4 linked regions of the Homo sapiens genome follow. The protein of the gene in region 1 purifies or fractionates together with the protein of each later gene. This does not show direct contact. Each region holds a gene or a part of one and is shown in the gene's direction. Other genes may lie near its edges.

Region 1 (3,500 bases):
CTCCCGAGTAGCTGGGACCACAGGCGCCCACCACCACGCCCGGCTAGTTTTTTGTATTTTTAGTAGAGACGGGGTTTCACCTTGTTGGCCAGGATGGTCTCGATATCCTGACCTCGTGATCCACCCGCCTCAGCCTCCCCAAGTGCTGGGATTACAGGCGTGAGCCACTGCACCCGGCCCTCAGATGTCTTTGAGCACTAAAAGCTAAAGGCTTAAAGTGGATAGAATTGCTTTCTCCGAACTAGGGAGGAGCCTGAAGCTCTACAAACAAGGAATATTTCAGTAAAATAGACTGAGTGGTTTCAGCTGAGGAGAGCCAGTGGAGGAGCGGCTTAGACTGTTGTGGAAGTTAGGGCTAGTTTCTTTCTTTATGAGGAACTATAAGCTGGATGACTCACAGGTTAACTGCCTAGAAGGGACTGTTCCCAGAGCAGGGCCCAAAGGGGAACGAACGAGTCAACAGCTGCCTCCCGGTGGCAGTGTGTGTAGGGTAAGCGGCAGCTTTCATGTGAAGTGCCAAGGCCTTTTGGTTGGGGGGCTGAGAACCTGCTGAGGGAGCCACAACTGAGACCCAGGCTGCTCCTGGCTGGGAGGCTACAGGCCCCGAAGCCACAGGGCCCCTCCTGGTCGTGGGATCTTTGATAAACCGACACGCAGAGGCTTTGTGAGGCAGCAGGGCACGGAGCATCGTCTAGTCTTTTTTTTAAGTGAAAGCACATTTCTTAAGAAAGTAAAGGAATACAAGAATGGCTACTCCGTAGACAAAGTAGCCTGTCCAGTCTTACGACAAGGCCTGAAAATCTCACGCTTTCATCACCAAGTTGGAGAGATCCTAATTCTATAATTTCTCTGATCTGCTTACAGGCGAGTCTCATTACCCATTTACAAAGCATATGGGTATTGATTGTACTATTCTTTCAACTTTTCAACTTTTCTGTTTGTTTCAACCTTTTTTTTTTCTTATCTTTTTTTTTTTTTTTTTTTTTGAGACAGACTTTTGCTCTTGTTGTCCAGGCTGGAGTGCAATGGTGTGATCTTGGCTCACTACAACCTCTGCCTCCCGGGTTCAAGCGATTCTCCTGCCTCAGCCTTTCCCAGTAGCTGGGATTACAGGCATGCACCATCACGCCTGGCTAATTTTGTATTTTTAGTAGAGACGAGGTTTCTCTGTGTTGGTCAGGCTGGTCTCGAACTCCCGACCTCAGGTGATCTGCCCGCCTTGGCCTCCCAAAATGCTGGGATTACAGGCGTGAGCCACTGTACCCGGCAGCTTCAACCTTTTCATAATCACAAGTTGGGAAGAATAAAGGAGAAAAATAATTTAAATATTACAGATGGAGGTACTTGTAGTTAAGCCTGCTTTTACCTCTGCTCCCCCCTTAAACTCTATTGAAATAACAGGAAAGGGCTTACACAAAAAAGAAAACACCATAGACAAAGAAAGTAATAGAGGAAAAGACAAAGATGTGATCAGATTTTGGAAGATGGACATGGAGGGAGGGTGGCAACCTGCTGAGGGAAGCTTCAGAAATCTCTGTGCCAGAACAGGGCATCCTGGTGAGAAGGAAGACCATCTGTTCAGGTACCAGGAAAGGCAAGAGGTGGGAGTGATCGGGGGACAGGAACAAGGGGGGAGGGTTGAAAACCTCTAGGGAGTGTCAGCTAGAGACTTCAGGGCCCACTTGGCCAGATGATGGCTCTTGCCAACAATTGAAGGAGACCTCATGTTTAATTCCAGGAGCACCTGACCCAGGGAAGCTTCAGCATGGGATACTAGAGACAGGCCAGGGTGAGGCACCAGCCTGAAACTGGGCATCCCGAATGAGCAATGGGCCCAGCAGTCAGTTCCCTGGCCAGGCAGGAGGTGGGGAGTCCCTGCTGAGGGAGGTTGAATGCCCCCAGAGAAGTGTCCTACAGCTCCTGCCTGCCAGACCCCCAGGCACCCTGCAGAGGGAAAGTTAGTGATGGCGCTGGCCCCACAGAAGGCTTCCTGTCAACCTTAGTGCTTCAGTGGGATCAGACCCCTGGGTCACCAGCCATCTGAGGAAAGCCCCCACACATGGGAGAAAAGGTCTTAAAGGGAAGAGAATGTTAATGTCCTCAGTGAGATACAAAAGAGCATTGTCTGCATGAAAAAGGAACAGGATACTAGAAAAAGGATAACAAAGGGAACAGAATAAGAAAGTTCTTAAAATTAAAAAATAGAAAAAAAACTTCAAAAGAAGGCTTAGATTCTACTATTGTCTCAAGGAGATATTCCAAAAGCAAAATAGAGATAGTTTTTTTATCTTTCCTCTCCTCCTAATGTAGGAACAAGTCTAGAAGCCCAATATAGGATGAGTAGGAATTCCAGAAAGAATAGAAAACTGAAAGGAGGAAATGAACATAGAATGCAAGATAGTTTCTTGGCACCAGGCATGGTGGCTCATGCCTGTAATCCCAACACTTTGGGAGACCAAGGCAGGCAGATGACTTGAGCTCACGAGTTTGAGACCAGCCTTGGCAACATAGGGAGACACCATCCCCCACTTCCCGTGTCTACAAACACTATGAAAATTAGCCAGGCATGGAGTTGTGTACTTATGGCCCCAGCTACGTGGGAGGCTGAGGTTGGGGATGGCTTGAGCCTGGAAGGCAGAGGGTGCAACGAGCCTGGATTGTACCACTGCACTCCATCCTGGGAGACAGAAACAGACCTTGTCTCAAACAAAACAAAACAAAACAAAACAAAAAACAAAAATGCAAGATAGTTTCTTGGCAATGAGGCCATTATCTTCTAGATTGAAAGCGGCCCTGACAATGACTGAGAAAGACCCCACAGCAAAGCTTATCATTGTCAAGTGTCAGAACCCTGAGGATAAAGAAAGAGGGGCTTCTAAAACTCTAGGTTATTGTAAATACTTGGGAATACAAAGAGCAAACAAACATGAACAGCTAGGAGACAATGGAACAACTGATGACTCCAGAAATCAGTTAAAAAGGCTTTTCGGCCTAGAATTCTTTTGTTTTTGAAACCGGGTCTCACTGTCATCTGGGCTGGAGAGCAGTGGTACAGTTGTCTTCATCTCGTGGGCTCAAGTGATCCTTCTGCTTCAGCCTCCCCAGTAGCTGGGACTACAGGCATGTGCCACTGTGCCTAGATATTTTTTTTTTTCTTTTTCTTTCCCCACCCCCGAGTCAGAGTCTCGCTGTCGCCCAGGCTGGAGTGCAGCGGCGTGATCTCAGCTCACTGCAGTTTCCACCTCCTGGGTTCAAGCAATTTTCTGCCTCAGCCTCCCGAGTAGCTGGGATTACAGGCACCCGCCACCATGCCTGGCTAATTTTTATATTTTTAGTAGAGATGGGGTTTCACCATCTTGGCCAGGCTGGTCTTGAACTCCTGACCTCATGATCTACCTGCCTTCGTCTCCCAAAGTGCTGGGATTACAGGCATGAGCCACTGTGCCCAGCCCCGTGCCCAGCTATTTTAAAATTTTTTTGTAGAGATGGGGTCTTGCCAT
Region 2 (3,500 bases), on another chromosome or scaffold:
GCCTCCCAAGTAGCTGGGACTACAGGCCCACACCACCATGCCCAGCTATTATTTATTTATTTATTTATTTATTTATTTATTTGAGACAGAGTGTCACTCTGTTGCCCAGGCTGGAGTTCAGTGGCGTGATCTCGGCTCCCTGCAACCTCCACCTCCTGGGTTCAAGCAGTTCTCCTGTCTCAGCTACCTGAACAGCTGGGACTTACAGGCGTGCACCACCACGCCTGGATAATTTTTGTATTTTTAGTAGAGATGGGGTTTCTCCATGTTGCCCAGGCTGGTCTCAAACTCCTGGCCTCAAGTGATCCTCCCACCACGGCCTCCCAAAGTGCTGGCATTACAGGGATGAATCACCACACCCGGCTGCTAATTTTTAATTTTTTTGTAGAGAGGGGGGTCTTGCTATGTTCCCCAGGCTAGTCTCAAACTCCTGGCCTCAAGCAGTCCTCCCACCCTCCGCCTCCCAAAGTTCTAGGATTATAGGTGTGAGCCATTGTGCCCAGCCACACGTCTAAAGAATTCTAAGCGGACATTTTCCTAGTAGAAAGATCTCTATGACACAAACCTTGACTGGTTCCTAATCCCTCCTCCCTGTCTGCCCCCATTCCCCTACCCACAAGAGCAATGAAAGACATTTTGGGGAGAACTGGGGATATTTTAATAGGGAGTGGATATTAGATATGATGGAATAATTGTTTTTCTCAGATGTGATGATAGCATTGTAGTTCTGTCATTGTGTTTTGGAGGTACATGCTGAAGGATTTACGGGAGAAGTATCATTATGTCCAAACTCTACTTTCTTTTTTTTTTTTTTTTCCTGAGACAGAGTCTCGCTCTGTCACCCAGGCCGGAGTGCAGTGGGGTGATCTCGGCTCGCTGCAACCTCTGCCTCCCGGGTTCAAGTGATTCTCCTGTCTCAGCCTCCCGATTAGCTGGGACTACAGGCGTGCGCCACCACAACCAGCTAATTTTTTTGTATTTTTAATAGAGATGGGGTTTCACCATTTGGCCAGGATGGTCTCGATCTCCTGACCTCGTGATCTGCCCGCCTTGGCCTGCTTTGGTCTCCCAAAGTGGTGGGATTATAGGCGTGAGCCACTGCCCCCAGCCCAAAACTCTACTTTCAAATGGTTCAGTAGAAATTAAAAAGCAAATATAGGGCCGGGTGTGGTGGTTCACACCTGTAATCCTAGCACTGTAGGAGGCCAAGGCTCACGGATCACATGAGGCCAGAAGCTCAAGACCAGCGTGGACAACATGATGAAACCCTGTCTCTACTAAAACTACAACATTTAGCAGGGTAACTACAACATTTAGCAGGGTGTGGTGGTGCAGGGCTGTAGTCCCAGCTATACAGGTGGCTGAAGCAAGGTAATTGCTCGAGCGCAGGAGGTGGAGGCTGAAGTGAGCCGAGATCGCGCCACTGCCCTCCAGCTGACATGAGAGAACAAGGCCCTGTCTGAAAAAAAAAAGAAAAAAAGAAATTAAAAAGCAAATATATATAGAGAAAAACTTTTAATGGTAAAATGTTCATTTTTAAAATCTAGATGCAGGGCAGAAAAGTCTTGTCATGTTTAAACTCCTCTGGGTTTGAAGTTTCTGGAAATGAAAGGTGTGGGAACAGGTCTCTGGAGCAGCAGTGTGGAAGACGGGGTACTGGGGCTGGATGGAGTGTGGTGGTGGGGAGGGGAGTCAGGGAGCTGCTGCTTTAAGGCAGGAGTCTTCTTGGCATGGGTCTGTCAACCTCTTCTCTCCCCCGGGTCTGTGCTTCCAAATGCTGGTGCTGTTTGCACACTTGTGTCTTTGGCCTTCACTGGTTCTGCTTAGAATCTCCCTTCCATGGGTATCTACCTGACCATCTGCTCCTCTTCTTTCCAGTCTTCCACTCAACAGGTACTTCGTTAGAGCAGGCCCCCAGGCTGCCCTTACCCATGCCACAACAGCTACCTACTTCCTTGTGTCATCATTGAAGAGCTTGTCTGTTTGAGTTGTGATCGTGTTTGTCTGTCTGCCCTCACCAGCAAACTGAGCTCCCGTGAAGTCAGGGCCAGGTTCATCTGTGCATCGTCAGTGGCTGACAGGTGTAGTGCACAGTCTGTAAATAACAGTGATCATATTGCCGGGCGCGGTGGCTCACGCCTGTAATCCCAGAACTTTGGGAGGCCAAGGTGGGCGAATCACGAGGTCAGGAGATCGAGACCATCCTGGCTAACATGGTGAAACCCTGTCTCTACTAAAAATACAAAAAATTAGCCGGGCGTGGTGGTGGGCGCCTGTAGTCCCAGCTACTCAGGAGGCTGAGGCAGGAGAATGGCGTGAACCCGGGAGGCGGAACTTGCAGTGAGCCGAGATCCCACCACTGCACTCCAGCCTGGGCGACGGAGCGAGACTCTGTCTCAAAAAAAAAAAAAAAAAAAAGATCATATGAATGAAGCACGGTGTGCTCCTGCTGCCTCATCCTGTGGTCTCAGCGTTAAGTCCTTTCCCTTCTTCAGTTTCCTCTTCCCCGCCTGATCAGCACTCACAAGCTTCTTCTGAATGCACTCCTTTCTCTTCATCCCCACTGCCATCTTAACCCCAGACCATCTAGTGAGTATTTATTGAGTGCCTTCTGCATACCTGGTGCTGCTGGGCATGGCAGCCAGGGTGCCCAGGAAGCATGTTCCTGGCCTTTGTTGCTGCAGCCATATACCACGCTCCTGCCAGGCTGCTTTTGACACTTAGATTTTTTTTTTTTTTTTTGAAACGGAGTCTTGCACTCTTGCCCAGGCTGGAGAGCAGTGGCGTGATCTTGGCTCACTGCAACGTCCGCCTCCCAGGTTCAAGTGATTCTCCTGCCTCAGCCTCCCGAGTAGCTGGGACTACAGGCGTCCACCACCACACCTGGCCATTTTTTTGGTATTTTTTAGTAGAGACAGGGTTTGGCCATGTTGCCCAGGCTGGTCTTGAATTCCTGACCCCAGATGATCCGCCCACCTCGGCCTCTCAAAGTGCTGGGATTACAGGCATGAGGCACTGCGCTTGTCCGACACTTATATTTTTTTTGAAAACTTGACAGCATCTCACCCTACACAGAATAAAGTCGCCCTCGCCTCGCCCTCACGGTCCTCCCACATGCTCTTCTGCCTTGCTAAACAGCTTGCCATTCCAGACATATGCCATTCAGTGTCATGACTCCATGTCCCTGTACATGTTGTTCCCATTGACTGGAATTAGCACCTGCCTTCTCCACCTGTCTTGCTTGCCCTCCAAAACAGAGCCAGAGTGCCCCTACTGGAGTCCCTCCTGCACCTCCCAGGCCAAGCTGATGGTGGGTTCACTTGAGCTCTTGCAGTGTATGTCTAAGTTTACAGCATCTGTGGCCACTCTGGCTGTTTACTGATAGGTTTTTCCTGTGAGACTGAATAGGCTTGGCATCTGGTTTATCTTTGTATCCATAGAGCCCGGCATAGAATGCTGACTTGATTTCAAGTCTAGTGTTTTGTATAGTGCACCCTTCC
Region 3 (3,500 bases), on another chromosome or scaffold:
GGGCATTTATATTTGGATGGTGGAATTATACATAATTTTAATTTTCCTTTTTATCTTTTCTGTATTGTCTAAAATGAATACACTAAGCATTGTTATCCTCAGAAAAAAATAATTGAGGGATGGGGGAAAGGAAGTCCTGCTTTCATTTGATTCTTTGGTTGGTTTTATTCTGTAAGATGAGACTTTAACAGAGGTTAGAATGCATTAAAAATTGTAAAGACAGTTGACCTAATGGCACTAAACAGGGTTAGATCTAGTTTAGATCTTTTCCAGCATGTGAATAAGAATGGATCTTTAAATAAAGATTTTAACTAGGTATATGTTTTAGAATAAGTCATACATGTACATGGTAAAAATTCAAACAGTACAAACTGTGCAGCAAGGTATGGGAAATAAAGCAGCTCTCACTGTCACCTCCACCCATCAGCCTTCTCACACTGCACGCCCACATCTGTGTGTAATTCTGCTTTTCTTTAACATTACTGAAGGAACTTCCTGTGCATTTTTTGTCAGAGCTCTTCTGTGAATACACAAAATATGTACTGATCAATACATTATGTAGATCACGCAGGCTCAACCACATTGATCTTCCTATTCTTTCTAGTAGCCAAATAGAGTTCCCTGGAATATGATTAATAGCTTGCCTAAATCTTCTAATGCTGATAAACAGTTGTTTCTGCTCTTTCGTTATTTCAAGGAATGCTACCATGAATAGCCTTATATATGGTTTTGAGTATACTTGTTTAAGTGAATGTAGGAAAAACTCTTGGAAGTTAAATTGTGGGCCAGTTTATGTGAATTTTATATTTTGACAGAGATGGCTAAATTACCCACCTGTTTTTTTGTTTTGTTTTGGTTTTGGTTTTGCTTTTTTTTTTTAAGAGTTGGGGTCTTGCTACCTGGGGTCTTGCCACCTGGGGTCTTGCCCAGGGTAGACCTGAACTCCTGGGCCACGTTGGTTTATTTTACTGCATTCCCAGGGCCTAGAGCAACGATTGACACGTGCTAGCAGTATCTATTGGAAATTCTGGCCAACTTGCAATAGACCTGATTATTTCTACACTGAACATGTCTAAGATAGCTATTACTATTCATTCAGGAAAGCCCAGACAATTATCATGCCAGCAGCCTGAGACAGTAGCCAGTAATAGCCTGGTGTGGTAGTTTGCTCCTGTAGTCTCAGCTACTCAGCAGGCTGAGGTGGGAGGATGGCTCTAGCCTGGGAGGTGGAGGTTGCAATGAGCCAAGATTGCGCCCTGCACTCCAGCCTGGGTGACAGAGTGAGACCCTGTCTCAAAAATAAAAATAAGAATAAAAAATAAACCAGCAAAAGTTTCTGCCCTCACAGAGCTTCCATTCTAGTGAGAGGGTAGTTTGTCATCAGGAGGGTGACGCCGGTAGGGCTGGGGGCCAGCTCCCTGCAGGGAACAAACATGATCGCAGTGGGGTGGGAGTAGGGGATGAGTCCCCAGAGCCTCTGTGGTTTCCATTTCCACACAAAAAAACCACTGCTGCTGTAATCAGGAGGGGGAAAAGATTTTTAAAAATTTTCTTTCAGGGAATGGAAGGAAAGGATATTTTTGAAAGTAAGACTTTGAAAACTAAAAGTTTTGGGTCACTTAAAAACTCAAAATCTTTAGGTCACTTTAAAAATATTTAATCTTGGAGCTGGAGGCCATTATTCTAGGTAATTAGCTGGGTGTGGTGGTGTGTCCCTGTAATCCCAACTACTAGGAGGCCGAGGCAGGAGGATTGCTTGAACCTGGGAGGCGGAGGTTGCAGTGAGCCGAGATCGCGACACTGCACTCCAGCTTGGGTGACAGAGCAAGACTGGGTCTCAAAAGAAAAAAAAAAAACGAAAACTAAATACCGTATGTTCTCACTTAAAAGTGGGAGCTAAGCTATGAGGATGCAAAGACATACAGAGGGATATAATGGACTTTGGGGATTGATGGTGGGGTTGAATGGGAGGTTGGTCCTAATAGGTCCTAGTACGTCCCCTACTTCTAAGTCTTCCAGTCTGTCCTTTGCACTTTGAATGTTAATTCCAAGTTGGATAATGTCATTCTCATTTTTACAGTCCTTTCTTAGCTCCTCATCACCTCCAGGACAAAGCCTAAACCCCTCGCCCCATGGTAATGCGGCCCCTTTGTGACATGGTACCTGGCTAGAGCTTCATCCCTTTGTCCCATCACTCTCCATCCCAGACACTTTGTAGTTACTTTATTGAGCTCCTTGTGCCTGCCTGAATGGACTTGAAAGTTCTTACCTCCATCTTTTACATTAATTGTTTCCTGTAAGAATTGTGCTTTCTCGCATTCTCCCCAAAATCCCTTCCCCATAGGAAGCCCTTCTCCCAGGCTAAGTTAAGGTTTCTTCCTCTACATCCCTACCACACTCTGGTCACAACCCTCTAACCATTGGCTTGTTTTTTTTGTTTTTTGTGTTTTTTTTTTTTTTGTGAGACGGAGTCTTGCCCTGTCACCCAGGCTGGAGTGCAGTGGTGCAATCTCCGCTCACTGCAACCTCCACCTCCTGGGTTCAAGCGATTCTCCTGCCCCAGCCTCCTGAGTAGCTGGGATTACAGGCACGTGCCTCCACACCTGGCTAATTTTTGCACTTTTAGTAGAGACGGGGTTTCACCATGTTAGTCAGGCTGGTCTCAAACTCCTGACCTCGTGATCCGCCTGCCTTGGCCTCCCAAAGTGTTGGGATTAGAGGCGTGAGCCACCGCGCCCAGCCCATTGGCTTGTTTGTATGTCTACCTTCCTAAACAGTAAGAGGGAACTTGTCTGGTGTTCTTTTTTTCTCTCCTGTGCTGACAGCACAATGACCAGTACCTAGTAGTTGCAGTAGCCTTTGATGAACAAGCCAGCAAATGGTACTTTTCTTCCTTATCTGAACATACCATTTATTTTGACTTAGATTATATTCTCCTGCCTTTTAAAAAGATGGACTTCAGCAGAAATCTTTATGATATTGGGGAACAACTGGACAGTGAAGATCTGGCCTCCCTCAAGTTCCTGAGCCTGGACTACATTCCGCAAAGGAAGCAAGAACCCATCAAGGATGCCTTGATGTTATTCCAGAGACTCCAGGAAAAGAGAATGTTGGAGGAAAGCAATCTGTCCTTCCTGAAGGAGCTGCTCTTCCGAATTAATAGACTGGATTTGCTGATTACCTACCTAAACACTAGAAAGGAGGAGATGGAAAGGGAACTTCAGACACCAGGCAGGGCTCAAATTTCTGCCTACAGGTGGGTGGAAACTCCCATTGTGGGACTGGGAGGTGTGGGTTGAATGGACAGCCTCTGAGCTGATTGGGGCTTTTTTTTGTGGTACCCTGCCTAGTGCCTGGGAACCCAGCAGTGCCACAATTCTAAGCTTCTACAGAAAGACAGTAGTGCCTTGGGTGGTCCTGCTAAAGGCTGTAAAACTTAGCTTCTCCCCACCCTAGAGAGAGTGGGTAAACAAAGGCGTGAGAGAGAAACCACATTCAGT
Region 4 (4,123 bases), on another chromosome or scaffold:
AGCCTCCTAGGAGGCCTCCTTGTCCTCTTTGGAGACCCCTTAGCGCCAGGCTCCGTCACCGCCTAGTCCCTTGGTTCTGACCAAGATCCCGAGGAAGAAGGCGATCACTGTGTAGGGCTCTGCCTCCGTCTGGTCACCTTCTTGAGCTCAGGCTGCTCGGTCGGTCTGTGTGTCCCTGTCTCGGGGACTTGGGGGGCCATCCGTGCTGGGGCCTTGGCGGAGAGAACCGTGAGCCTCTAGGAGGTCGTCCTTCCCCCGCTCCCTGGGGCCTTGCCTGTCTCCCCGCCAAGAGACACCCCTCTTCCCTTCGCTCTCCCCAGCTTGAGACGGATGGGTTAGTGCAGCCACGGAGGCTTGCGCGGTGGGAGGGGTTGGGACCAGCCTTCTGCTGCCCTGGGTGCTGGGGATCCCGGGGCTTTCCAGGTGCTCGGCCTCCAAGGTGCGCGGTCCTCAGCTCCACCCGCGGGCGGCTCCTGCGTCCGAGGAGCTAAGAGAAGATCTATTAATTTCTTCACGAATAAATCGATGCTCTTGTCAGGGAGGCGATCGATGTCAGCCCTGCCCTGCCTTGCCCTATCCTGCCCCGGGGCCGGCGCTGGCTGGCCGGGGTCAGGGACTGAAGCTGAGACCTGAGGCGTTGCTCACTGGGGGCTGCAGATCGCACCCCCAGGCACCCAGCGCGGGCGGGGAGCTCGCGCCTTTGCGCGCGGGCTTCTCGCGCCACCCTGTGGCTTCTCTTGGAGGCGCGGTCTTGGCTCTCCGGACTCCCTTCGGCCGGATTAGGCGACCCCTTCCCTTTCTCTGCCCCGTCTGTGTCTTCCTCCCCAGGTTCTGCGATTGATCCTTTGGTAGTCCTTTTCGTTTTCTTCCTAGAGTTCGGAGAATGTTCTACCTAACTTACTCCAAGTGACATGCTCACTCCCCTAGGCACGCGCGCCGCGAGGATGGAGCGCTGAGCCTGGGGCTGGCTAGGATGACCTGGACAGCAACCTTTCCTCAACGCAGTCATCTTCCCTCCTCCCCAAATGTAAAAATGCAGCTGCTTTAAGCTGAGAGAAATAACGTATCAGCTTCCCACCTCCGGCCTCAGCAGACACCTCCGAGGCGTTCTGCTGCGGCCCCTCAGCGTCTGCCGGAGCTGAGGCGGATCCTCGGGGAGAAGGCTGACGCTGGGGGCCCCTAACAGGGGAGGGGGCAGAGGGGGGGGCGTCAGAGAGTAGGAAGCGGGTGGAGAAGAGGGGCAAGGCGGGGCCGGGCGGGGGCCGCTGGCTCCGCCCTTTCCTGGCGGCTGGGTCTTTAACACCGCCCAGCGCACATGTCGGGGGAGGCCTGGCAGCTGCAGCTGGGAGCGCACAGACGGCTGCCCCGCCTGAGCGAGGCGGGCGCCGCCGCGATGCTGCGAGGCGGACGGCGCGGGCAGCTTGGCTGGCACAGCTGGGCTGCGGGGCCGGGCAGCCTGCTGGCTTGGCTGATACTGGCATCTGCGGGCGCCGCACCCTGCCCCGATGCCTGCTGCCCCCACGGCTCCTCGGGACTGCGATGCACCCGGGATGGGGCCCTGGATAGCCTCCACCACCTGCCCGGCGCAGAGAACCTGACTGAGCTGTGAGTGTCCGGCGGGCGGTGGGGGGGCGCGGGGACAGGCAGGCATTGCAGTGCCCCGAGGGCGCGGACTCGCTGCTTGTTTGCTGGTCAGGCAGGACGAGCACGGCGGAAGGCTGGCACCACGCAGCCTTCGGCGCTGCCCGGGCGTTCCTCCGCAGCCGCCGCTGCCCTAGCAAGCTTTATGGTCAGTGCCTGGATGTCCCCTAGTGTTCAGGGCAGCTGGGCCGCCGGCTTCAGGGAGATCGAAGGGGGAAATCTCCGTGGACCAGGTCTGAGAGAGCCTAGCCGTCTAGAAGGCGCTTTCTGGAGCTCAGCCAGAAGCCCCTGCTCTGTCCTACAGAGAAGGATGGTTACCAGCAGAGAAGTCCCCAGTTTGTCACCCTTACTGCCTTTTTCCTTTTCTAGGGGCAAGCCAGCCCCCGCCCACTTTCTTGTTATGAGGAGGCAACCCTAGCTTTTCTTCTGGAATTGGGGATTGAGCTGGCTGGCATTGGTGGGAGGCGGTGAGGAGCTGAGTGGTTGAGCTCTCCTCTTTCCATTTTTACCATTCCTTCCCCCAGAACCCGTTGATTTGGATCTGGGAAATGGGACCCCCTCCTGGATTTTCTCTCCCCACTCCCATCTCCCTCTCCAACCTTGTCTCTCTACCTGGGGCGGGGAGTCAGGGCCCTTGCTGAGAGACCCTCCTCCCTTTGGTACACGAAGCTGGGAGGAATCTTCAGCATTCTGCAGGACTCTGACATTCTGCAGGAATTGGTTACAAAATACTCAAGTACTTTTTAGCAGCTGGTGAAACCTATGGGAGTATGCGGTAATGACTGGCCTGGAGGTACTCAGGCATCATATGGTGATGGCTGGAAAATACTTGAATATTACATATGGCTATCATGGCCAGCAAGACATCTAGAAGAGGGGAGAACTGCTAGAAAATCCTCCTCCTGTGGCCTGGGGTTTCGAGGGTGGACAAGGAACCTTGGCCTTGTGCTGTGATGGGCTGGAAGGTATCCGAGGTGAGGATCATCACTGTCTGGAAGTTACTTGAGCAGCTTGCAGTAATTGGCACTGAGTTCCTTGGGTATCTCATGGTAATTAACGGGAAGGCACTCAATCTCTCTCTCTAATAGCTCTAGGGAGACCAGGAGTAGAGGAGATGGCCTTGTCTTGGTCTAGGCCTAGGTCTCTGCATGATGGGAGGGGGCATGAGAGACAGGTTGCCAGTCCTAGTCCAGTTCTCTCATCACCCTGGGCCTTCAGATTGGGGTCCAGACTCCTGAGTGCTCCCCATCAGGGCTCGTGTTTCCCAACTCTTTCCAAGCCCCAAGTGGGTCCAGCAGGGTAGGGATGGGAGTGGTAGGGGGAGTGGACAGGCCAGAACTGGGGACTAGCAAGCATGTAGGGTGGTGAGCTGAGATGTCCCCCTGGGTGGGGCTGCAGCCTGACATCCCCCTCCCCACTGCCTGCACAGCCCCCTCCCTCCTCACTCACCCGCAGAGCTAACGAGGAGATAATGGACTCGAATAGACAGATTGATTATGAATCCAAACGAATGAGGCAGCTTTGAGGCAGCTTTGAGCACGCTGGCCTGACAGCTCCCACACACCCTGCCAGCCCACTGCATTCTCACCCCCTCCCTGGGTCCCTACAGCTTGAAACCCTCTGGGCAGGGGCTGGGGGGTGGGTAGAATAGGGACTTGGCCTCCCTCGGAGTCAGTGGAGGTTACTTTATAGGCCTCTACTAAGTCCACAGGGAAACTTAGGACCTGATCCTGGCTGTCCTGGTGGGGCCAAGGCTGGGAAGGGAGGAAAGGAGGAAGGGAGGGGTCACTTAGGCTGGTCCTGGTTCCTATAAGTTAGGGAAAGTTAGAGGGTAGAGGGGGAGAGTTCTGAGAACCGTCAGTGAGTCAGGGGCCCCTGGCATGTGTATTGTTGGGGTGGGGGGGGCACACTAACATGTCACTACAGGGCAGCCGAGTTCTCAGGAACTCCCTGGTATGTCGGATCCAGCAGCTAGGCAGGCCCCAGGGCGTCAGCTGTCCCCTAGCCCCGAATGCCTACTCATTCTTCTTTCTTTCTTGTCTATCTCGCTTTCTGTAGCTCTCTGTCCTTATCTGTCTGTCTCCCTCCCCTTATCTGTCTTCCTTCTTGCCTGTCACTATCTCTCTGACCTCTTCCTGTCAGTTTCTCTTTCAGTGTCTCTGTTTCACTCTCTCTTTGTTTTTCTGCCCGTCTGCCCCCACCCTCCTCGTTGAGCCTTTCCATCTTTCTGTCTCTCTCTCTCTCTCTCTTGCTGTGTAAGTCAGCCAGTCTGTGCCTCTTCTCCCCTCCTCGACACTCTGACTGCCTCCTCTCATTGCTCCTCTCCTCTTTCCTGGGTCCCTCCTTGGGGTCCCTAACTGATAGCCTGTAAGACTCTTGCTTGATCTGCTGAAAAGATGGTAGGGGAGGTTTCGGTGGAGTAGGGGTTGCTGCTTGGGTGTGAAGAGGGGCCAGAGGCTATGGGGGTGCAGAGATGTTTGTG

Evidence for each region.
Region 2: the proteins of SQSTM1 (region 1) and NIPSNAP2 purify together in Homo sapiens (affinity purification with mass spectrometry; 4 studies listed by BioGRID and IntAct, with this or other methods). This does not show direct contact.
Region 3: the proteins of SQSTM1 (region 1) and CASP8 purify together in Homo sapiens (affinity purification with western blotting; 5 studies listed by BioGRID and IntAct, with this or other methods). This does not show direct contact.
Region 4: the proteins of SQSTM1 (region 1) and NTRK1 purify together in Homo sapiens (affinity purification with western blotting; 6 studies listed by BioGRID and IntAct, with this or other methods). This does not show direct contact.

Annotation. Positions count from the first base shown.
Region 1 is NC_000005.10:179,827,405-179,830,904, forward strand, and holds part of SQSTM1 (sequestosome-1), read left to right. Parts: intron 1-3,500. UniProt on the Homo sapiens protein: Molecular adapter required for selective macroautophagy (aggrephagy) by acting as a bridge between polyubiquitinated proteins and autophagosomes.
Region 2 is NC_000007.14:55,967,585-55,971,084, forward strand, and holds part of NIPSNAP2 (protein NipSnap homolog 2), read left to right. Parts: intron 1-3,500. UniProt on the Homo sapiens protein: Protein involved in mitophagy by facilitating recruitment of the autophagy machinery required for clearance of damaged mitochondria.
Region 3 is NC_000002.12:201,263,536-201,267,035, forward strand, and holds part of CASP8 (caspase-8 isoform 2 precursor), read left to right. Parts: intron 1-2,925; coding exon of another isoform or gene 2,926-2,951; coding exon 2,952-3,256; intron 3,257-3,500. UniProt on the Homo sapiens protein: Thiol protease that plays a key role in programmed cell death by acting as a molecular switch for apoptosis, necroptosis and pyroptosis, and is required to prevent tissue damage during embryonic development and adulthood.
Region 4 is NC_000001.11:156,859,542-156,863,664, forward strand, and holds the start of NTRK1 (high affinity nerve growth factor receptor isoform 2 precursor), read left to right. Parts: upstream 1-1,323; 5' UTR 1,324-1,393; coding exon 1,394-1,605; intron 1,606-4,123. UniProt on the Homo sapiens protein: Receptor tyrosine kinase involved in the development and the maturation of the central and peripheral nervous systems through regulation of proliferation, differentiation and survival of sympathetic and nervous neurons.